7 linked regions of the Homo sapiens genome follow. The protein of the gene in region 1 purifies or fractionates together with the protein of each later gene. This does not show direct contact. Each region holds a gene or a part of one and is shown on either strand. Other genes may lie near its edges.

Region 1 (2,453 bases):
ACCCGGCATCTGGGGACGGCAGAGGGTATCACACGGCGAGAGGGCAAGAGCGTGTATGTCGTTTCAGGCCTCTCTTCCTATTCTTATAAAGCCACCAGTCGCATCCTGGGGGTCTCACCCCGATGACCTTATCTAATCCTAATTACCGTCTCAGAGGCTGCGCCTCCAATCAACATGTGAATTTGGGGATTAAGTTTCCAAGACACACAATTTGGGGGATGCACTCAAACCACAGCAACATCATTAGCCATTTGGGAAATACGAATGAAAACCACCATGAGATAGCACTTGACACCCAGTAGGATGGCTACTGTAAACAAAACAAAATGAGGCAAACAGAAAACAGGTTTTGATGAGGCTGTGAAGAAATTGGGACTCTCATGCACTACTGTTGGGAATGCGAAAGATTACAGCTGCTGTGGAAATCAGTTTGGTGGTTCCTCAATAAGTTAAACAGAATTACCACACGAGCCAGCAGTTTGACTGCTAGAAATAGACCCAAAAGAACTGAAAAGAGATATTCAAAGAAAAACCTGTAGAGAGATGGTCATGGCAGTGCCACTCACAATAGCCAGAAGGGGGAAATAACCTGTCCATCAACTGACGAGTGGGTAAACAAAATGTGGCCTCCTATTCATACAACAGAATCGTACTCAGTCATTCAAAGGAAGGAAGTAGTGATTCATGCCTCTACATGGATGCACCCTGATGAAACCATTACGCTAAGTGAAAGCAGCCAGACACACACGGCCTCACATTTGGTCGTATAATTCCATCTATAGGAAATCTCCAGAACAGGCTAACCTCTATGGACAGAAAGCAGATGGACTAGGGGTTGCCAGGGACTATCGGGAACGTGTGTATGGGCGGGGGCAGGGGGTGTGTGTGGGAGGGTGTGGGGGCTGGTAGTGGTGGTGTGGAAGGAGGCGTGCGGCAAGTGACTGCTTATAGGTACAGGGGTTTCGGTTTCTTTTCGGGGTGTTGAAAACGTTTTGGAACTAGGTGGTCGTGATGGATGTGCAACATTGTGAAGGCGTGGTACCCGTCCTCCCCTCGCCCACCCCTTTGTCTTTCCCACGGTGTTCCCATCCAGTAGAAAGGGAAAGTTCCCACTGGCAAAGAGAGGGTCACCAGCGCGATTCCCCCTGCCCCGCCCCACCCCACCCCCACGGCCCTCCAGCCACTTCTAGGCCCAGGCCTGCTCCCTCGAGGCCAATGGGAAAGTGATGAGGTCACCTGACGGACGTGTGTCCCTTGTGAGGGGCCGTCACCACATGCGTGCCCGTCGCCGGATGTGCGTGCCCATTGGTCTCGGCTCCCTAGCCAATGAGGGGCTGGGCCCTGGTCGCTAGGATACACAGTACTGGACGCGGTAACTGTCCTCTTGAGAGCCATCTTGCCTAGCTGGGCCAAGCCGAGATAGCACACTCAACGCCCAGCATGCCGAGGAGGAGGAGACGCCGAGGGTCCTCCGGTGCTGGCGGCCGGGGGCGGACCTGCTCTCGCACCGTCCGAGCGGAGCTTTCGTTTTCAGTGAGCCAGGTGGAGCGCAGTCTACGGGAGGGCCACTACGCTCAGCGCCTGAGTCGCACGGCGCCGGTCTACCTCGCTGCGGTTATTGAGTACCTGACGGCCAAGGTCCTGGAGCTGGCGGGCAACGAGGCCCAGAACAGCGGAGAGCGGAACATCACTCCCCTGCTGCTGGACATGGTGGTTCACAACGACAGGCTACTGAGCACCCTTTTCAACACGACCACCATCTCTCAAGTGGCCCCTGGCGAGGACTAGCTTCTGACACCCGGCCCCTGGGACCTGACAGGTCCACTCGTCCACCCACCCGGCCCCAAATCCCCCGGCCTGAACCCCCGGCCTTAAACACCCTCCCCCCACAACCCAGGCCCCAAAGTCTTGGGCCTTCATTAATTCTGTCAATAAAATGTTTCAAGGAAGCCATCTGCCCGCTTCAGTCACTTTGCCTTGGGGTGGGGGTGGGGGGGCGGTGAGATGGGTTGGGGGGTTGTGAGACCTCCACAGCTGGAGGGATGGAGAGGTGGTGGGGGTCTGGGGTTGGGTGGGAGCCAGGGATGGCACAGAGGAGCCGTCTCTCCGGGTGACAGTGCAGGGGAGTGGCCCTGGGTGGGAAGGGGACACCCCCGCTGGTTCTGAGCAAGTCAGGGCCTGCCCGGGAAAGTCCTCAGCATGATGGTGTTCGTTGGGGCGGGTGGGCCTCAAGACCATGACTGCAGTGTTGCGACAGGACGGACTTCTAAGGCAACCGGGGTGGGGACGGAGAGGTGGACCCGGTGCTTGGCAAGGGGCCCTGGACCGGAAGACGGAGGACTGAGTAGTCGGGGCGGGGGGGGGGGGGGGGGACAACAGTCCAGAAATGCGCAGACATGGAATTAGGGTCACGAGTTTCCTTTGGGTCATGTTCAGATGGAGAGGCTGTGGGA
Region 2 (3,500 bases), on another chromosome or scaffold:
CTCTGCAACAGCACCCTTCTGCTGGATCTCTGTTTTCTTTCTAGGAGTCAAATGATTAGAAATATTTCCTTAATTTGCATACTATGGATCAGGCCAGGCTGCCCTCCAGAAATTTAGAAAATCCTTGAGGAAGAAATGGAAACTTGTGTTCACACAAAACCTAGACACAAATGTTCACATTAGCCTTATTCATCATAGCAAAATACCAAAAATCACCCCCAAGTCCTTCAACGTGTGAATGCATGAACAGCTGAGCAACCCCTGGGCCATCCTTACAGTGGAATACCACTCCACAGTAAAGAGCGGCGGCCGCTGCCACCGCAATGGCCAAAACAAACTCCAGGGCATTGTGCTTAGTCAGAGGTCCATCTACAAACATAACATATGACTCCATCTACAGAACATTCTCGACATGACAAAACTACAGAGAGAGAGGACAGATGAATGGTTTCGAGGGGACAAGGATGAAGGTACAGTGGGTACAAATACAAAGATGAGGCATGAGGTTGCTGTGCCGTGGTGGCCAATCCTGTATCTTCACCATTGTGGTTGCTGCATGAATCTGCACTTGTGATAAAATTGCACAGAACCATCCGCCCATGTACAAATGAATGGAGACCAAAAAAAGATGATGAAAACTGGCTAAGGTTTGTGGTGCAGTTGACAGTAACACCAAATGTCAACTTCCCGGTTGCGAAAAGCCACAGCAATGTAATGTCTCTCCACCCTGGGAGAACAGGGGGAAAGACGTTCAGGACTCTCTGAATTATTTTGCGAATTCCTACAAGCCTGTAATTATTTCAAAATAAAAAGTTCCTTTAAAAAGTAAATAAAGGTAAGACAGGTTAAATGATCACCTAAATACAGATCAGAGATGACGATTAGGTGACGCATGGAGGAGCAGCAATAGCTCCAAGCCACCTTTTCAGGGTTTCGGGAAGGACAACTGGAAGGGCAAAAGGAGCAGGAACACACCATTGAGGAAGACATCCGAGTGGTAACGCCTTTGACGGAAGGGAAAATGTGAGCCAGAAAGTAGGTCCTTGCCTGAAAGGTTGATCAGAGCAGGTTGATCTGGGGTTAGAGTCAATTATAAATTAGCTAGCCACCTGCATTCTCTCACCTGTATCTGCTTGTCAAGTTCAGACAGAAGAGTGCCACAGAAACGATCATAGGCAGAAGAGAGACTAAATTTTCCTACAGTTTTAAGAACATTCAGATATGAGGTTAGAGAAACTGGAAAAAAAGCAGCCGGGCGCGGTGGCTCATGCCTGTAATCCCAGCACTTTGGTAGGCCGCAGCAGGCAGATCATGAGGTCAGGAGATCGACACCATCCTGGCTAACATGGTGAAACCCCGTCTCTACTAAAAATACAAAAAAAAAAATTAGCCGGGCGTGGTGGCGGGCACCTGTAGTCCCAGCTACTCAGGAGGCTGAGGCAGGAGAATGGCGTGAACCTGGGAGGCAGAGCTTGCAGCGAGCCGAAATCACGCCACTGCACTCCAGCCTGGGTGACAGAGCGAGACTCCATCTCAAAAAAAAAAAAAAAAAAAATCCAACAAACCAACCTTCTTCAGAGGATATAAGAGAAATTGGAAAAAAAGAAACTCTCACCCTGACAGTGGAGCGAAACAAGCACGTGTCCATTCAACAACATGTGACTGCACTGCAACCCCTCCCAGGAGTCACTTATTTCAAAGGTATAGTTCCCTATGGGAACTATACAGCAGGCTCGAAAGAACGTGAAGGCAGATGTTCCGCACTTGAGGCAAAGCCCAGCACGGGCTCATTATTTCCACAAGCTGAAACATTCTCTTCTGCAGCCACTTCCCAGGGACACCTTGGATTTTTTGCAAAGACATCCTACCAGTAAATTCTTCTCTTTTGCACTTCATATGGCACATAACATTTTCAATGCTGATGTTCCAATCACAAATCACAGAGGAAGTTATCAGCTTAAAGCGGCTCCTACCGACTGCAAGTGTATGAGGGACGAGGCGCTGGACTGGAGGCTTTCCATGAATTCTTGGATTTCCTTCCCACAGCCACTCCATAAGAGAGCTGCTGTGATGCCTGAACTCACTACAGAGGACGACACTGATAAGGCACACCCAGGAAGCCCCCGCGATGGGACCGAAGCCCAGGCAGACATGACGCAGAGGCCACATCCTGAAGCACCACGCCGTGCCCTCACAGAGCAGCTCTCTCAGCCTTGAGAGGGCAGAAGAATCACCTGGTGAGCGTCTCTACCTTCTCAGCATGCAGGTATCAAGAAGGATGCGTGAGCACCGCCAGGCCTTGAGGAATCACTTTCTATCTATTTGTTCACGTGCACTCATGCCTGAAACTGCTCGGAGTCTGACTTATGCACCAATCTGGCCGTCCTTTCCCGGGTATCCCCTCCCACTTTACAAAGGAAAGGCACAACTTTCCTCTTACCGGGATCAATGAGGGACAAGGGAAAATACTGTTGTCAAAGCAGCAATCAAAGCAGCTGGCCCGGCCCTCACACCCCTACGCTAACCCAGCTCATCAGGAGGTGCACTGCCAAAGAGATGTGTTTAATAAGCATTCATTAAAATGTATAACAGATCTGCTAATTTTATTCACTGTGATCTACTAATCATGAGGGTAGGTGCAGTGGCTAAAGCCTGTAACCCCAGCACCTTGAGAGGCTGAGGTGGGTGGATCACAAGGTCAGGAGTTGGAGACCAGCCTGACCAACATGGTGAAACCCCGTCTCTATTAAAAATACAAAAATTAGCCAGGCGTGGTGGTGTGCACCTGTAATCCCAGCTACTCAGGAGGCTGAGGCAGGAGAATCGCTTGAACCCGGGAGGCGGAGGTTGCGGTAAGCCAAGATTGTGCCACTGCACTCCAGCCTGGGCCACAGAGCAAGACTCCATCTCAAAAAAAAAAAAAAAAAAAAGAGAGAGAGAAAATAAAACCCTAGATTCTTTATGAAATCCTTCAGAGTAAAGTAAATTTTCTGGCCTTAATCGTGGTTTATGGCTCTAGATTTGCCAGCCACACTATCAGGAGGCTTACAGTGCTGAGTATCTCTGCTTGCTTTTCTTAGATGTTATAATGCATTTAGTCCTCACAACAACCTTCCAAAGATGATACTACTGCTTCCATTTAACCAAAGAGGAAATCGAGGTACAGCCATGTTCAGCAATTTACCGAATGTCATACAAATGAAAAGTCAGACCAGGATTAAAATCCAGGCAGTCTAACTCTGGTGTTTGTCTCTAAACCACTGCATTCTATTTAATCTCCAAGTCTTATATGTTCATGCTTACATTCTTACATTCTTTTTTTTTTTGGAGATGGAGTTTCACTCTTGTTGCCCAGGCTGGAGTGCAATGGCGTGATCTCGCCTCACCACAAACTCCGCCTCCCAGGTTCAAGCGATTCTCCTGCCTCAGCCTCCAAGTAGCTGGGATTACAGGCATACGCCACCACGCCCAGCTAATTTTGTATTTTTAGGAGAGACAGG
Region 3 (3,500 bases), on another chromosome or scaffold:
CTTTAAAAATGTAATAACCAGGCTGGGCATGGTGGCTCATGCCTGTAATCCCAGCACTTTGGGAGGCCAAAGTGGGAGAACTGATTCAGCTCAGGAGCTCAAGACAAGCTTGGGCGACATGACGAAACTCTGTCTCTACTAAAAATACAAAAATTAGCTGGGCATGGTGGCAGGCGCCTGTAATTCCAACTACTCAGGAGGCTAAGGCACGATCATCACTTGAACACAGGAGGTGGAGGTTGCAGTGAGCCATGATCACACCACTGCACTCCAGCCTGGGCAACAAAGTGAGACCCTGTCTCCAAAACAAAACAAACAACAACAAAAAAACCCAAAAACAAAATAAAAAGTATATATATACACATATACACACACACACACACATACATACATACACAAATATATTTATTTATTTAATGTAATAAGTAGGCCAGCCATGGTGGCTCACACCTGTAATTCCAGCACTTTGGGAGGCTGAGGTAGGGGGGATCACCTGAGGTTGCGAGTTCGAGACCAGCCGGGCCAACATGGTGAAACCCTGTCTCTACTAAAAATACAAAAATCAGCCAGGTGTGGTGGCGCACGCCTGTAATCCCAGGTACTCAGGAGGCTGAGGCATGAGAATTGCTTGATACCATGAGACAGAGGTTGCAGTGAACTGGGATCGTGCCACTGCAGTCCAACTTGGGCAACGGAGTGAGACTCTGTTTCAAAAAAAAAAAAAAGTAGACCAGGCCTGGTGGCTCAGGCCTATAATCCCAGCACTTTGGGAGGCTGAGGCAGGCAGATCACGAGGTCAGGAGTTCGAGACAAGTCTGGCCAACATAGTAAAACCTCTTCTCTACTAAAAAATACAAAAAATAAGCCGGGTATGGTGGTGTGCACCTGTAATCCCAGCTACTCGGGAGGCTGAGGCAGGAGAATCACATGAACCCAGGAGGCAGAGGTTGCAATAAGTTGAGAACATGCCATTGCACTCCAGCCTGGGCGACAGTGTGAGACTCCGCCTCAAAAAAAAAAAAAAAAAAAGTAATAAGTAGCCAGTTGCAGTGGCTCATGCCTGTAATCCCAACAATTTGGGAGGCCACCGCAAGATGACAAGACGGTTTGAGCCCAGGAATTTGAAACCAGCCTGGACAACATAGTGAGACCCTGTCTCTTTAAAAAAAAGAAACAAAGAAAGAAAGAAAAGAAAAGAGAAAATTAAAAGGTAGCAAATACCACCAGCCTTCCTAAGCCACCTGAGAATAACTGAAGCACTTTCACCTGGTCAAGGTTGTCCTTCTCTACCCCCACATGCCAGGGGCACTCATCTTCTCGCTAAATCTTGCATAACCTGCTGCTCTGAACACCCACCCTCCAGTGGCACCCACTCACCAGAGCAGCGAAGTACTCAGTCTCCGTCTCCTTCCCTCCCTGGGAGCGAATCACCTCAGTGACAGCAGCCAGAACAGCACAGATCTGCACAGGAGGGAGAAAGCACTGTGACTATTTTAGACCTAACCCCACCCCAGGGGAACCTCCTTTCCTTGCTCCTTCACAGATTAATCTCTGGTTAAAGCCCAGAGACAGACAAGACAGGCAACATTCAGGGCCTAGGTCCATACCAGGGGGCCCAGCAAATAACAAGACTCAGAAAATGCTTGCTAAAATTCCACCATGAGGTACTAACCTTCTAGAAATACCTGCATGAGATGAGTGTGCAAATATTTATGTACAAGGATGTTCATGGCAGCAACAAATTGGAATGGTCAAGAAGCCATCAACAGGAGATTAATAATGTACTGTAGTTGTCTCTAATGTACTGCAGTTATCGAGGGGGGGATTGGTTCCAGGACCCCTAAAGATACCAAAATCCGAGGATGCTCAGGTCCCTTATAAAAAATGGTGTAGTATTTGTGTATAACCTATATACATCTTCCCATATACTTTATTTATTTTTTTTGAGATAGAGTCTCACTGTTAGCTAGGCAAGAGTGCAGTGGCATGATCTCAGCTCACTGCAACCTCTGCCTCTGGGTTCAAGCAATTCTCCTGCCTCAGCCTCCCAAGTAGCTGGGATTACAGGTGTGCACCACCATGCCCAGCTAATTTCTGTATTTTTAGTAGAGATGGGGTTTTACCATGTTGACCAAGCTGGTTTTGAACTCCTGGCCTCAAGTGATCTGCCCTCCTTAGCCTCCCAAAGTGCTGAGATTACAGGCATAAGCCACCATGCCTGGCCTCCCATATACTTTAAATCATCTCTAGATTACTGGTAACACCTAACACAATGTAAATGCTATATAAATAGTTGTTATACTGTATTTTTGTTGTTGTTGTTGTTGTTGTTGTTTTTGAGACAGAGTCTCACTCTGTCACCCAGGGTGGAATGCAGTGGCGCACTCTCTGCTAACCGCAGCTTCCACCTCCCGGGTTCAAGCGATTCTCCTGCCTCAGCCTCCTGAGTAGCTGGGATTACAGGCATGTGCCACTACGCTAGGCTAATTTTTTGTACTTTTAGTAGGGATGGAGTTTCACCATGCTGGCCAGGTTGGTTTTGAACTTCTGACCTCAAGTGATCTGCCCGCCTCGGCCTCCCAAAGTGCTAGGATTACAGGCGTGAGCCACCTCGCCTGGTATATTATTATTATTTTAAAAAGATTTTTCAATCCATGCTTGGTTGAATCTGCAGGTGCAGAACCCGCAAATATAGAGACCTGACTGTATCATTATATAATAATGAAAAATTTAAATAGTGCATTATTCAAAAGAATGAGAACAACTATATATTAACTTATAAATATCGTTCAGTAGGGAAAAAGTTGCAGAACAGTGGATAAAAAATAAACTAATCAAGCAGGGCACAATGGCTCACACCAGTAATCCCAACACTTTGGGAGGCTCAGGTGGGCAGATCCCTTGAGCCCAGGAGTTCAAGACCAATCTGGGCAATATGGCAAACCCCATCTCTACAAAAAATACAAAAATTAGCTTGGTATGGTAGCACTCCCCTGTAGTCCCAGCTACTTGGGAATTGGAAGGCTGATCAGCCACTGCACTCTAACCTGGGTGACAAAGTGAGACTCTGTCTGAAAAAAAAGAAAAGAAAAGAAAAGAAACTAATCACATTTTGGTAAACCTAAATAACAAAATTGGGTAAAAAAAAATACGTATATATATATACATATATATATATATATGTATATATATATACGTATTTTTTTTTTTTTTTTTTTTTTTTTTGAGATGGAGTCTCGCTCTGTTGCCCAGGCCGGACTGCGGACTGCAGTGGCGCAATCTCGGCTCACTGCAAGCTCCGCTTCCCGGGTTCACGCCATTCTCCTGCCTCAGCCTCCCGAGTAGCTGGGACTACAGGCGCCCGCCACCGCGCCCGGCTAATTTTTTGTATTTTTAGTAGAGACGGGGTTTCACCTTGTTAGCCAGGATGGTCTCGATCTCCTGACCTCATGATCCACCCGCCTCGGCCTCCCAAAGTGCTGGGATTACAGGCGTGAGCC
Region 4 (3,500 bases), on another chromosome or scaffold:
GTACTGTCACATTTAAAAGGTTACTGAAGCAAACTTGCATAGTATCAAAGCAAGAAAGTTTGTGGTATTGTGGAAATAACCGGGAATGGGAGCCAAGAGGCCCAATAGAAAACCGGACATTTAGGAGACATGCAATAAACGACAAATGAATGATAAGGTGATAAGGCACTTTGAACATGTTATCTCTTCTCTCACTGGATCTGTTTCTTCACTGCTAAAGTAAGATTATAATGAGGATTAAATGAGTTACTACATATAAAATACTCAGAACAACTAGTCCTTGGCACAGTCAGTACTCAATAAATAGTAAACACTATTATTAGATGCCAGTCCTGATTCTGCCATTATATTCAGGTGTAACCTCAGACAAGTAACTCACCATTTTGGGTTTCTATAAAATGACAGGGCTAGTAATGGATGCTCTATAGCTCCCTATCTAGTTTAGAAAATATTTAATTTTCAATTCTCAAACATGTTAGAGAATAATTCCCACATACGCACATTAAAAATTATTTTCCAGGCCGGGCGAGGTGGCTCACGCCTGTAATCCCCACACTTTGGGAGGCCAAGGCAGGCAGGTCACTTGAGGTCAGGAGTTCGAGACCACCCTGGCCAACATAGCGAAACCCTGTCTCTACCAAAAATACAAAAATTAGCCAGGCATGGTGGTGCATGTCTGTAATTCCAGCTACTTGGGAGGCTGAATCAGGAGAATCGCTTGAACCCGGAAGGCAGAGGTTGCAGTGAGCCAAGGTCGCACCACTGCACTCCAGTCTGACTCCATCTCAAAAAACAAAAAACAAAAAAACACCACATTATTTTCCAGACTACAATCTACTACAGAATATACACCAAACATACTCATACTATTGGGGGCGGGGTACATGTGGATGTGACTGAACATCCAGACTACCATTTAAAGTGGAAACTATAACTTGAGCACCCATCCAAAAAGGAACATATTCAGAATAAGGAAAGGAGCCCTGGATGAAGATTAAGATTTTGTTCTAATCCTGACACTGCTGACAATGTTAAACAATACCTTACTCCTCTCTCTCTACGTCTGTTTACTTATTTGTAAATTGAGAGGTGTTGGGATAAATAATCACTAAGATCCATTTGAGACTTCCTTTACTTTTTCCCTCCTTCCAAACTAGAATGTTGTCCTAGAAACCAAAAACCGTTCCTAGAAAACCAAAAACTACAGCATCAATAAATGTGAGAACTGGCCAATCTCCAGACTAAACAGTCCCAATCTGAGGATGGGTGATAATGGCACCAGCCTTTCAGATGGGCCCACACTGATGTTCAAGACCCAGCAGACTCTATTCTGTCTGCTTTCCAGAATAATATATATTCTCCACCATAGAGAAGGGTAGGAAATGAAAATTAGCTCAATATACTGATTGCTACTTTTAACACATCATTACACAGTAACTGATGATTCCTTCATACCACAATATTTTTAATGGCCAACATTTCTTCAGTACCTACCATGTGATGGGCCTGGTGCTAAGTACCTTAAAGCATCCTAAAGCTAGAAGACAATTTTAGGTGATTTCCAGGTAAGAAAACTATTTAAGGACTGGAAAATACATGGCTAAATTCATTTCCTTAGGTTCAAGACCACTCCTTGCAAAAAAAAAAAAAAAAAAAAAAAAACACAGAATCTTAATTATTTCATTAATTGTCTTTAAAAAAAAACATACATAAGTGAAAATTGAATTTTAAATTCTGATGCTCACATCAAGAAAGTAATTTACTCTTAATACTCCCAAATGGTTTCATTATATTCTTACCTTTTTATTTCAGCCCTATAATTAGGAACAAAAAACAGAAACTCATCTAAAAATATATAATTAAAAGTTATTTTATAAAACTAAAAACCTCTTACCTGAGCATGAAAATTGGACATAGTCGTTGTCTCTATATCTTTCTTTCCCAATATCTCCATTTTCACTGGTGAATTGGGAAAATTAAATGAAAAATAGTCTAAAAAGTCAGGTAAATAAGTAGCTGCCCCATGAACAATACCCATCACGTAGAAAGCTGCAGAGTTTTCATTTTCACTGAACACTAGACCCACAAACTCTTCTGCAAACCTCTCCATCTCCATAGGAGACAGGTGGGAGAGTTCGTTACTGTAGGCATGGATAACCGATGCACCTCCATTAGGCTGGTGCTCTATATGAATGAGTTGTTTAAATTCCAAAGTGTCCAACCTTTTGAGGTTATTCTGAACTCGTGGCTCCTTTAATGAGACAAATGGAAACTCACTGTTCTCTGGAATTTTGGAATCATAGTTCTTGGTATCCAAATTCTTCCCAACGTAATCTTTTATGTTATCATTTAGGATGCCTTTGGCTGCTTGATCTTCAACATCAGTTAGCAATCCTGAGCAGATGGTCTGAATAGATTTGCTATACATTTTCGGACGCTTCCGTTTTTCATTCTCTTTGTGTTTCTTTTTCTTTTTCTTCTTTACCTTTTTAATTTGTAAGTCTTCTATATTTGTTTTTGGTTTCTCCTTCCCACCTGTTGGAAAAAATGTTTTTTGAAACTCCATATTTTAATTACTTTAAAAACCATGCTTTAGGAACAGTTTTGTCTAAGTAAGAAGTTTACTTCTGAAAATTTACTCAGAATTATATATTTAGGACTCATTTTTTACAGAATTGATAATCAATATTTAGTCAGCCTTTTTTGAGACAGAGTCTTGCTCTGTCGCCCAGGCTGGAATCCAGTGCCACAATCCTGTCTCACTGCAAACTCCACCTCCTGGGTTCAAGCAATTCTCCTGCCTCAGTCTCCCAAGTAGCTGGGATTACAGGAGCGCGTCACCATGCCCAGCTAATTCTTGTGTTTTTAGAAGAGACAAGGTTTCACCATGTTGGCCAGGCTGGTCTCAAACTCCTGACCTCGTGATCTGCCCGCTTCGGCCTCCCGAAGTGCTGGGATTACAGGCGTGAGCCACCACACCCAGCCAGCCAGTCTCTTCATGTACACAGCGAGAGAGAGACAGAGAGAGAGAGAGAAAGAGAGAGACAGACAGACAGACAGACGGGCATAGAGCAAAGTTACATCTACAGTGTGTGCTACCATTCTGACATATAGCAAATGCTCACAGTTTACAGAAATAAGGAGATGAATGAATATTTTAGAAAACAATCTTCAGGCCAGGCGCAGTGGCTCATGCCTGTAATCCCAGCACTTTGGGAGGCCGAGGTGAGTGGATTGCTTGAGGTCAGGAGTTCGAGACCACCCCGCCCAAGAGAGCAAAACCCCATCTCTACTAAAAACACAAAAATTAGCTGGGCATGGTGGTGAGCACCTGTAATCCCAGCTACCCGGGAGGCTGAGGCAGGAGAATTGCTTGAACTGAGAGGCAGATTGCAGTGAGCCAAGATCGTGCCACTGCACTCCAGCCTGGGTGACACAGCGAAACCCTATCCCAAAAAGAAAAAAATAAAGAAAAAAAGAATCATCTATGCCTAGTGTCT
Region 5 (3,500 bases), on another chromosome or scaffold:
CACAACAAAGTTTAACATAAAGTTTGAAAACCCAGGGTGGGTAGAGGAGTATGTGTCCCAGGAGAACAAGACATAAGCATCTTTAAGACAAGAGACAGGGTTTTGTAAGACATTCTAATTCTAATCAGTATTACATGCTTTGTGAAAGCTCAAATAAGTTTACATGGGTAGGAGGATAACCTAATGTAATAAATATGAGAAATCAGTGATAAAACAACAAACCTGAAGAAGCAAAGCAAATGAACTATATGTTACCTCCTTTTTTGAAGTGAAAATGAGTGGCTAATTTCAGTTGTCAGGACATAAAATGTCTCTACTAAAAGTCCTCTTAAGGTTTTTTGATGTATCTGTTTAGTTAGAATATAACCTATATCTGCTATTCCTACAGTTCTCACTTTTCCATGTTAACTCATTACTCTATATTTTGTTTAGTAAACAATTTCCTAGATTGACATTTCACAATACATTGCCCACTTCCTGCCCGTAACAGCACAAAAGATTATTCTAATTTTATGAGATTTCACGCCCCCGGAAAAGGTGAATTACTGGATAACATAACAGTCTACTGAAAATAAACAGATCTACACAATCTTCCAGTCCAAACTATCACAACAAAATTCATTTTCATTAAAAAGTCAACATCAGTTGGTAGACTTTAAGATACCTTACACAATGCATATGTACCAAGTAAGCATCTGCTAATCAATAAGGAATTAGTTGAATTGTAGTACACCCAGTGGTTAACAGTGGGTAGATCTTTCTGCAAGTATATAAACAGGAAAGATGACCAAAGTATTAAATAAGTCAGTTGTGTAGTAGGATCTTGTTTTTATTACTATTAATTTGAAAAGAGGTTATTCACTCTCCATATCCTATACTTCTTGCAGTGTCTCTGCCAGATATAATTCTGGTACATGGTATGTGCCCCAGAGAAGTCTGTCAATGGAAGGAATGAACAGCTGAATCTTTTACAATGAGCATGTATGATTAGCCCTTGAAAATGTAATTTACACTCTAAATAAAAACATTTGTATTTTTAATGATGTTCTCCCCACAATGAGTTTCTGGATGCTGCAGGTAGCAGAGAACATACCTTAATTCCAAACTTGGATCTTGCCTTTTTGTAGGATGCCTCTCTCCCCCTCAACAACCTTCTTCTAGTTCTACCACGCTTCACTTTATTTCACTCCTTGCCTGGAGAATCTCAAAACACATTTTTTTCATGACTATTTTCTTTTATCATAGAATTTTGATTATTTCCCACTTTCTTGGACATTCTCAAATACCCTGCTTCTAGTTTTCAGTTCCTGGCAAGAAACCCTAAATGATGTCCATCAAATTTATGTTATCAGCTTTCTAATTATCTGCAACTACTTCACACTGTCTCCCCATTCTCTGTAACAGGCCAATACCACCCTTTTGTTTGCCCTCAGCATTCACACGCAGTTTTTCACAAAACAAAAGCCCTAAGAAAAGGTCCTCAGTTGGTTATCACCAAACCTAAACCCGCCTGTATCAGAATTTATCCTTTTCTCTTTTCTTTCTTGTTATAAAAGAAGTGCATTTTAAAGGCTAACCCCTCAACCTGAGCTCTGCAGTCCAGTTCCTTTCATGTCCTCAGGGCCACCTCCTTCACTGAAATTTACCTTGCTTTCCTAAATTTCTAACCTCTCCAGTAGACATTAGGCAGTCAACCGATATTCTGGTTTGCTTCTTTTAGTAATGTGGTAGAGAATCAAACCTTGCTTGTTATAAACCATTAAGATTTGGGGGTTGGTTATTACTGCAGCATAATTTGGCCCACTTTGATTTGCCCACTTTGATTTCCTCTTCACTGGGTGCTTCCCTCAGGGCATGAACATGGTCAAATCTCTTCACCTTAAAAACAAAAAACCCTCTCGTGAATTCCCCTACCCCTATCAGCTACGGCACTATTTTTCTTCCTCATCTTCACAGCAAAACTACTGGAAAATGTTCCACTTCTGAATCTCTGTTTCACTTGCCACCCTACCGCAATCTGGCTTTTACTTCCACAATGCCACAGAAAGGACTCCCATTAAGATCATCAACGACCTTGTTGATAAATCCAATAGACATTCTCTGCTCTTACATCATTTGTGCATGCTTGCCACTATCAATTACTTCTTGTTGATACGCTCTTCTCTCCTTTAAACACTACTCTTAGATTTCAAAACAACACACACCTTATTTTTCTCTTCTCTAGCTGATCTTTCCTAGATTATTTTGTAACCTTCTTTTCCTCAGCCTGTCCTTAAATTTTCATTTTCCGTATTTGACAGCCTGAGTGATCTACAGACCAGCAACACTGGCATCACCTGGGAGCCTGTAACAAAAGTCGAATCTCTGATCCCACCAGTGTCCTACATTTTAACAAGATGTCAGGTGATTCCTATGCACATTCAAGTCTGAGAAGCAATGGTCTATAGAATTCAGGCTGGGCCCACTCTATTTCTGACTGTTCACTCCCACACTCCAACTACTACCCATGAGCCCATTAACTGTCAAATACTTATCTCCAGTCTAGATTTTTCTAGGCATCAGATCTACACAGCCCTCTCCCTCCTGCAAATCCTCATTTGTATGCCCTATAACAATATCAAACTCATAGTGTCCATAGCTGAGCCTTCTTCCAACAAGCCTGATCCTTACAGATAGGCATAAAAGAGTCATCATTAACACTGTACTCGTCCCTTCAGATAAAATACATCACAAAATCATTTTGAGTCTACCTCCTAAATCACTTTAATCTGTCCACTCCCCTCCATCTCCACTGCCAACGTGCTAATTCAAGCTGTCATTTCTCACCTTAGTTACTGCAAGGGCTACTTCACTGGTCCCCCTGAACCAGGATTACCTCTCTTCAATCCATTCCTTATACTGCTACCAGAGTGAATTTAAACATTTAAAATCCAGTCATTTCATTCTTTGTTTAAAATGTTTTAATGACTTGCTACAGTCCTTAGAAAGACTCAATGTATCTCAAGGCCCCGCGTATTTTTCTAGCCCAGAGATTTTCAAATTGCTGTTTCTGAAATTATATTAAAGGATCATGACCAGCATTAATAAAAAGAGAACAGAGAAGTTCAAAAGCAAAAAAACCTCAAAGCAATGTGCAGATAATTAAATATTATTTTACAAAACTTTTCATCTAGTTATACATATGTGTGTACTGGGTTGTAAATTCAAATACATTCCTTTTTGGGCAAAGTGGCCAACAAGTTTGAAATTGACTGCCCTAACCTCATCTCAATACACTCCACATCCATGTTCTTATCTTTTACAGTTTCTCGAACTGAAAATGTGCTTCCTTGATCTCTATGTTATGGCACATGCTACTGCCTTTGCCTGGAATCTTTTCCAAACCCCAAACTTCAAACACACACACGTACATTCACTTTGTTATCTTTCAAGTTTCAACTTAAGGGTTACTGTCCCTGAAAAATCTTCTAAAATACCTTGCCCTGAGTTAGGTGATAGCC
Region 6 (2,968 bases), on another chromosome or scaffold:
GTGCACTCCAGCCTGGGCAACAGAGCAAGGCTCTGTCTCAAAAGAAAAAAAAAAAGAAAAAGAAATACATGCTGTTGGAATGGTTTTGAGACAGAAAACCCTAAAATACCCAGGTCTCTGGGATCCTGAAGCAGTGCTGCCCCTCAGCACTGCCGTCATGCCAGTCCACTTAGGACTTTGGCTGTCACCATATCTAACATTTTAAATAGTCTCCATTAGGTTTGCTGACTTTCAAGCAAGTGAAAAAAAGATAATCTCCATAAAGTATTTTATATATTATACTTTAAGTTAATAGGTTCACAGTTCACACATTTTGTGTTAGAGTCCCTTCTGGCTTCCCATTGAATGTATTATCTCTTTTCTAGCCTGTACCAGAGATTAAAGTTGTGTCAAATCTGCCAGCCATAACCATGGAGGAAGTAGCCCCAGTGAGTGTTAGTGATGCAGCTCTCCTGGCCCCAGAGGAGATCAAGGTAAGAAGCCAATGTTGAAACCTTAAATGTCTGTTACAAGTTAGTTGATCATAGCCAGACTCCATTTATTTGACGTCATTTGCCTTGCACTTGTAGTTCTTATTCCAATGTATCTCAGCAGTTTCTAAGTATAAGCAAACTAGTAATGTTATAATATTCAAATACCAGTCTCCTATATTCTGGCTTTATTATGAGGTACAGGTTTGAGAGTTACTGTAAGAGCAGTTTTAAAATAGCTAGTATCAATATCTTATTATAATCCAATCTGAATACTAGCAGTGATGTTAAGTTGAAAACAAATGGCTTGCATTGCATATATACTAGCAATAGTTTAGTGTCAGCATTTCCCCCTTATTTTATTCATGTAATGCTAATTAGTAATGGAATCTGAATCTAGAATCGAGCATTTGGTTATCAGAAGAGGCTAGATATATCAAATGCAGCAATCCCTGCCATGTGAACATTGAAGCTTATGCCTTACACAGTAATAATGGTTTCTGCCAGGTGCTCATCTTCCTGGCTGGCTTAGCAGCAGGGCCTTCTTTTTCCCTCCTCACTTGATTTGCTACACCTACACTCACCCCTTCTGTCTGAGCCTCTGCCACCTCAGTGCAGGTGACAGCCCTGGCAGGATAGGCTGGCAGCTGAGGAGAAAAGAGATAGAATTGATCCTCACTAGAGAGATGTTTCCCTTCCCTTCCTCTGTTCCTTGGTCTCTGCCCTCTGGCCTCAGTCCAGTTGCTGTCATTAGCAGCTCAGAGCTGAGGCTGCCTCTGGCATGTCCCTGAAGCCCATTGGAATCTAAATGCTGTGGAGGGCTGGCTCCTCTTGTGCTGTTAGGTTGAGAACCCAACTCTCCATGTTGCCTTCTTGTGAATTAGTTTGGGAACTGAACCGTCACTATAAGAGTCTGTGCCTGTCAAAGAATGCATTTCAGGTTTTAAAGAGCTGAGTTACCAACGCTCATTGGAATGCAGGTGGGGATTGCTCTGCATCTTTGTGCATTTGGCCACAGATGCACAGCCTGCTTGCTGGCTACCCTGCAGTTTCTTCCATTCCAGTTTCCTAGTTGTTAAACTTGATGAATGAATATGTTGGTGGTTATTTTTTTAATAGGAGAAAAATAAAGCTGGAGATATAAAAACAGCTGCTGAAAAAACAGCTACAGACAAGAAACGAGAGCGAAGGAAAAAGAAATATCAAAAGCGTATGAAAATAAAAGAGAAGGAGAAGCGGAGAAAACTGCTTGAAAAGAGCAGTGTAGATCAAGCAGGGAAATACAGCAAAACAGTAGCTTCGGAGAAGTTAAAACAGCTGACCAAAACTGGCAAAGCTTCCTTCATAAAGGTAAGGACAAGGGAAAGAAAACTGCTCAAGGGGACCTTTGTGGGGGAAGTGGATAGCAAGTGCTGGGTGACTGGAATGTCTGAGCCAGCTGACAGCCCACCTGCGGGATAGAGATGCATGATGCTGACTGGCTGGAATCGCAACCTTTAATGTTCTAGAATTTTTCATGTAGGGTCCTCACAATAACCTGGGTCCTGGCAGCAGCTTGTCTTCCACTCCTTTCTCTCTTAGATTATAAGAACATTGTAGCAGTGCAGAATACCTCTATGCTAACTGATTCAGTTTTCTGTAATTCTAGTCCTTTTTCATATTTATGGTTGCATACATTGTTGTAATGGTGATGTACTATTTTTGGCTTTTTTCACTTATAAGTACATTTTACAGCATAAGCATGTGGTGTTTTTAATTGCAGGATGAAGGTAAAGACAAGGCCTTAAAGTCCTCTCAAGCATTCTTTTCTAAATTACAAGATCAAGTAAAAATGCAAATCAATGATGCAAAGAAAACAGAAAAGAAAAAGAAGAAAAGACAGGATATTTCTGTTCATAAATTAAAGCTGTAATATATTTTGAATATAATGTAAATATTAATGTGTAAGCTTATATTGTGTCATTGTTCTGTTTTATAATAAAATTCTTGAGAACCTTCCTTTGCATCGATGACAGATATTTGAGGGTTCCATAGTGTGAAAAGACAAACCCCTAACCATTTGCAAAGCCCTTCCGGTTTTCACTGGTATGAAGCAGGACCTGGCTCCTCCCCAGGCCCTTCCTGTTCAGGCACTGCCTGAGCTGATCCTGCTGTGCTCTTGCCGTGGCCCAGGCCTGTGTGAAGGCCAGGCCAGCTTGTCCACATGGGCTGGTGAGCAAGCACTGGCCTGCAGGCTGTGAAGAGGACAGAGCCAGCCAACCCCCTCACAAGCAGCTGTCTACAGCAGAGGTCCTCACTCTTTGGGCTCTTGATTTCCTTCTCCCATTGCCCTGTCATTTCATAAAACAGTAGCATTTTCATGCCTGTGCCTTCCTTCCCCTTTGGGAAATGATCTCATGTCATCTGAACAAAGGTTTAATGTAGGCTGTAGAGCACTATCCACAATCAGCTGCAGAGGACAGGTATGATGGAGAAGTGAATCTAGAAGCAACAGAAGC
Region 7 (3,500 bases), on another chromosome or scaffold:
CTCTTCCAAACTGGTCATCTGCCCTTCTCTAACCCCTTCTCCGTGCTGCAGAGCATTTTTTAAAGCCAATTTGAGAATGTCTCTCCCATGCTTAAGCTTTTAGTGGCTTCTCATTACTCTCAGGATAAACAACTGTGTTCACTTCTATCCTGGGGCCTTCCCTGCGCTGTTTACTCAGCCTACTACACTCTTCTTGCTGCTTTTTATACACTTCCTATGCACAGTTAACTATGACTCAGCCTTCAGATCTTAGCGCAAATGTCATTTCTTGAGGGAAAGTTTTCCTGACTCACATGTGTACATATATGTGGGTGTATGTGTATGAATATGTATGCACACAGAAAACTCCAGGCATTTAAGACTTTCCACCTCTCCATGTATAATATCTCAACTCCCTACATTTATCTTACTATATTATTCCCACAGTGTAAACATGCCCTAATGTCTCCCATCTTTAAAACTCTCTTAATCCTGATCCTCTTTATAGCAAAACTTGTTAAAGCATCCATTTGGACTGCATCCACTTATCTTGTTGTACTGTCTCCTTAATCAATGCCAAGGAGGCTCCTACTCTATCCCTTTTCCACTGAAACTGCTCAAGAAAATTACTAACGACCCTATCCTGCCAAATCCAACGGTCACTTTCCTGTACAGATTTTATTTCATTTTTAACTTTTCTTTTTTTTTTTTTTTTTTTTTGGTGGAGTCTTGCTCTTGTCGCTCAGGCTGGAGTGCAGTGGCACAATCTTGGCTCCCTGCAACCTCTGCCTCCTGGGTTCAAGCTACTCTACTGCCTCAGCCTCCTGAGTAGCTGGGATTACAGGCACCCCCCACCATGCCCGGTTAATTTTTGTACTTTTAGTAGAGATGGGGTTTCGCTATGTTGGCCAGGCTGGTCTCGAACCCCTGACCAGGTGATCCACCCGCCTCGGCCTCCCAAAGTGCTGGGATTACAGGCGTGAGCCATCGTGCCTGGCCTATCTTTTATTTCATTTTTAAAGTAATGAGAAGAGGTGTCATTATGTTGCCCAGGTGGGTCTCAAACTCCCGGGCTCAAGCGATCCTCCCGCCTAAACCTCACAAAGTGCTGGGATTACAGGCGTGAGCCACTGCGTGCAGCCACTTTCTGTACACACCTTAAACACCTTCAGCACTAGTCAACCATCACTGATTACTTCTTTGTTTTGTTTTTGATGTTTTTCCCTCATTGGTTTCTTACTAATGCAGCATTTCTAAAAGTGTATTCCAAGGAATCCTGTTCAAAGAATTGCTTCTAAAAAAAAAAAAGAGAGAGAGAGACAGGGCCTCAATCTGTCGCCCAGGCTGTAGCACACTGGTGCAATCATAGCTCATTCTAAGTTCAAACTCCTGGGTTTAAGCCATCCTCCTGCCTCAGCCTCTCAAAGTGCTGGGATTACAGGCCTGAGTGACTATGCCCAGTCAGAACTGTTACATTTAAAAAAAAAAAAAAAAAAGGGACCGGGCATGGTGGCTCATAATACCAGCACTTTGAGAGGCCAAGGCAAGAGGATCACTTGAGGCTAGGAGTTCAAGACCAGCCTGGACAATATAGGGAGACCTTGTCTCTATAAAAAATTAAAAAATTAGTCAAGTGTGGTGGCGTGCGCCTATGGTCCCCAGCTACTTGGGAGGCAGAGATGGGAGGATTGTTTGAGCCTGGGAGATGGAGACTGCAGTGAGCAATGATTGTGCTCCTGCACTCCAGCCTGGGTGACAGAATAAGAACCTGTCTCCAAAAAAAAAACAGGGTTCCACGGTCAAAAAAGTTCGGGTAATACCTATTTTATCCTGTCCTACCTGCTCTTAAGGTTTTAGACATTTCTGCAGGGCCTTTAAAAAAGTTAGCTAACCTCTCTGTACCTACTTTGGTCATCTGTAAAGCAAGGACTACCTCAAAATTTACTGCAAGGGTAACATGAAATAATGTATATATAACAGAGAAGTATATAACAGAGCAGTGCCTGTCACAAAGAATACACTACGTAAGTACTGTTCCAGCCTGGGCAACATGGCGAAACCCTGTCTCTACAAAAAATATAAAAATTAGCCAGGCATGGTGGTATGTACCTGCAGTCCCAGCTACTTGGGAGGATAAGGCAGGAGAATTACTTGAGCGCAGGAGGCAGAGGTTGCAATGACTGGAGATCGTGTCATTGCACTTTAGCCTGGGTGACAGTGAGACACTGTCTCAAAAAAAAAAAAAAAAGGAAAAAGAAGTACTATTATTACAACTCACCCCATTGTTTGGAAGATTAAATGAGTTGATATGAAAGTACTTCAGGCTGGGCGTGGTGTCTCACATCTGCAATCCTAAGACTTTGGGAGGCTGAACAAGGGGGGAATGCTTCAGCTCAGGAGTCCAAGACCAGCCTGGGCAACATGGTGAGACCCTGTCTCTAAAAAAAATTTTTTTCAAAAATTAGCCGGGGGTTGTGATGGGCACCTATAGTCCCAGGTATTTGGGTGGCTGAGGCTGGAAGATTGCTTGAGCCCAGGTGGTTGAGGCTGCAGTGAGCCATGCTCCTGCCACTGCACTCCAGCCTGAGTGACAGAGTAAGACCCCTCAAAAAAAAAAAAAGTTTGAAATTTGCTGCTCACATTTTAGAGCAGCAATTCTCAAACTTCATAGTCCCAGGATTCCTTTGCACTATTACATTATTGAGGACTCCAAAGATCTTTTATGTGGATTTTACCTAACAACATTTATCAGAAAAATTTTAAAAATATTTATTAATTCATTAAAATACCAACCTTATGTTAACACAAATAACGTTTTAATAAAAAATTGCATTTTCCAAAACAAAAATATTTAGTGAGAAAAATGACACTTCTTCATTTTTGCAAATCTCTTTAACGTCCAGCTTAACAGAAGACAGCTAGATTCTCACATCTGCTTCTGTATTTAATCTATTGCTATATGTTGTTTTGGTTGAAATATATGAAGAAAATCTAGCCTCATAACGATATGCAGTTAAAAAGGTTATTACAATACTCCTCTTTTTTCCATATAATTGTGAATTCTCCACAAGTGGTAGTTTCTTCAAGATTAGTTGAAATGTGACATCTGAGACCAGACCAATGAGCTTTTTCATGCCCTAGTACATAAAAAATCCCATAGTCTATCTTGCACTTTTATCCATGTATGTCTCTGTAAAACCATAAATTGGTCATTTGGAAAATATTAGTTCAGTGAGTTATACATACCATATAAATGTTAATGCAATTCATTATACAAAAAAAAAAAAAAACACATCAGTATCATCAGTGATCTCACCAGAAAAGTCTTTAAGTATTAGAGAGCTGTCAAGCTCACAGTGGCACATAAATTTTCCAAAATTCTAATTTTCAACTTGAATGCTCAAATTATCAGTTGTTCTCCTTGAAGTGGCAGGCTTGTTTATTTCTGAGAAAATGTCTACTGAACACTCAGATCTGAATAATATTTAGAAAATTCTAGAAAACACAACACAAAATTTATC

The links.
Region 2: the proteins of H2AB2 (region 1) and PINX1 purify together in Homo sapiens (affinity purification with mass spectrometry, with the first as the bait; one large-scale study listed by BioGRID). This does not show direct contact.
Region 3: the proteins of H2AB2 (region 1) and RRP12 purify together in Homo sapiens (affinity purification with mass spectrometry, with the first as the bait; one large-scale study listed by BioGRID). This does not show direct contact.
Region 4: the proteins of H2AB2 (region 1) and RSBN1L purify together in Homo sapiens (affinity purification with mass spectrometry, with the first as the bait; one large-scale study listed by BioGRID). This does not show direct contact.
Region 5: the proteins of H2AB2 (region 1) and DHX36 purify together in Homo sapiens (affinity purification with mass spectrometry, with the first as the bait; one large-scale study listed by BioGRID). This does not show direct contact.
Region 6: the proteins of H2AB2 (region 1) and MPHOSPH10 purify together in Homo sapiens (affinity purification with mass spectrometry, with the first as the bait; one large-scale study listed by BioGRID). This does not show direct contact.
Region 7: the proteins of H2AB2 (region 1) and THAP12 purify together in Homo sapiens (affinity purification with mass spectrometry, with the first as the bait; one large-scale study listed by BioGRID). This does not show direct contact.

The regions. Positions count from the first base shown.
Region 1 is NC_000023.11:155,379,347-155,381,799, forward strand, and holds H2AB2 (histone H2A-Bbd type 2/3), read left to right. Parts: upstream 1-1,362; 5' UTR 1,363-1,440; coding exon 1,441-1,788; 3' UTR 1,789-1,953; downstream 1,954-2,453. UniProt on the Homo sapiens protein: Atypical histone H2A which can replace conventional H2A in some nucleosomes and is associated with active transcription and mRNA processing.
Region 2 is NC_000008.11:10,826,376-10,829,875, forward strand, and holds part of PINX1 (PIN2/TERF1-interacting telomerase inhibitor 1), read right to left. Parts: intron 1-3,500. UniProt on the Homo sapiens protein: Microtubule-binding protein essential for faithful chromosome segregation. Mediates TRF1 and TERT accumulation in nucleolus and enhances TRF1 binding to telomeres. Inhibits telomerase activity. May inhibit cell proliferation and act as tumor suppressor.
Region 3 is NC_000010.11:97,394,841-97,398,340, forward strand, and holds part of RRP12 (RRP12-like protein), read right to left. Parts: intron 1,462-3,500; coding exon 1,378-1,461; intron 1-1,377.
Region 4 is NC_000007.14:77,748,459-77,751,958, reverse strand, and holds part of RSBN1L (lysine-specific demethylase RSBN1L), read right to left. Parts: intron 2,536-3,500; coding exon 1,895-2,535; intron 1-1,894. UniProt on the Homo sapiens protein: Lysine-specific demethylase that specifically demethylates methylated lysine residues of proteins.
Region 5 is NC_000003.12:154,317,988-154,321,487, forward strand, and holds part of DHX36 (ATP-dependent DNA/RNA helicase DHX36), read right to left. Parts: intron 1-3,500.
Region 6 is NC_000002.12:71,147,634-71,150,601, forward strand, and holds the end of MPHOSPH10 (U3 small nucleolar ribonucleoprotein protein MPP10), read left to right. Parts: intron 1-365; coding exon 366-473; intron 474-1,589; coding exon 1,590-1,820; intron 1,821-2,232; coding exon 2,233-2,382; 3' UTR 2,383-2,468; downstream 2,469-2,968. UniProt on the Homo sapiens protein: Component of the 60-80S U3 small nucleolar ribonucleoprotein (U3 snoRNP). Required for the early cleavages during pre-18S ribosomal RNA processing. Part of the small subunit (SSU) processome, first precursor of the small eukaryotic ribosomal subunit.
Region 7 is NC_000011.10:76,371,133-76,374,632, forward strand, and holds part of THAP12 (52 kDa repressor of the inhibitor of the protein kinase), read right to left. Parts: intron 1-3,500. UniProt on the Homo sapiens protein: Upstream regulator of interferon-induced serine/threonine protein kinase R (PKR). May block the PKR-inhibitory function of DNAJC3, resulting in restoration of kinase activity and suppression of cell growth.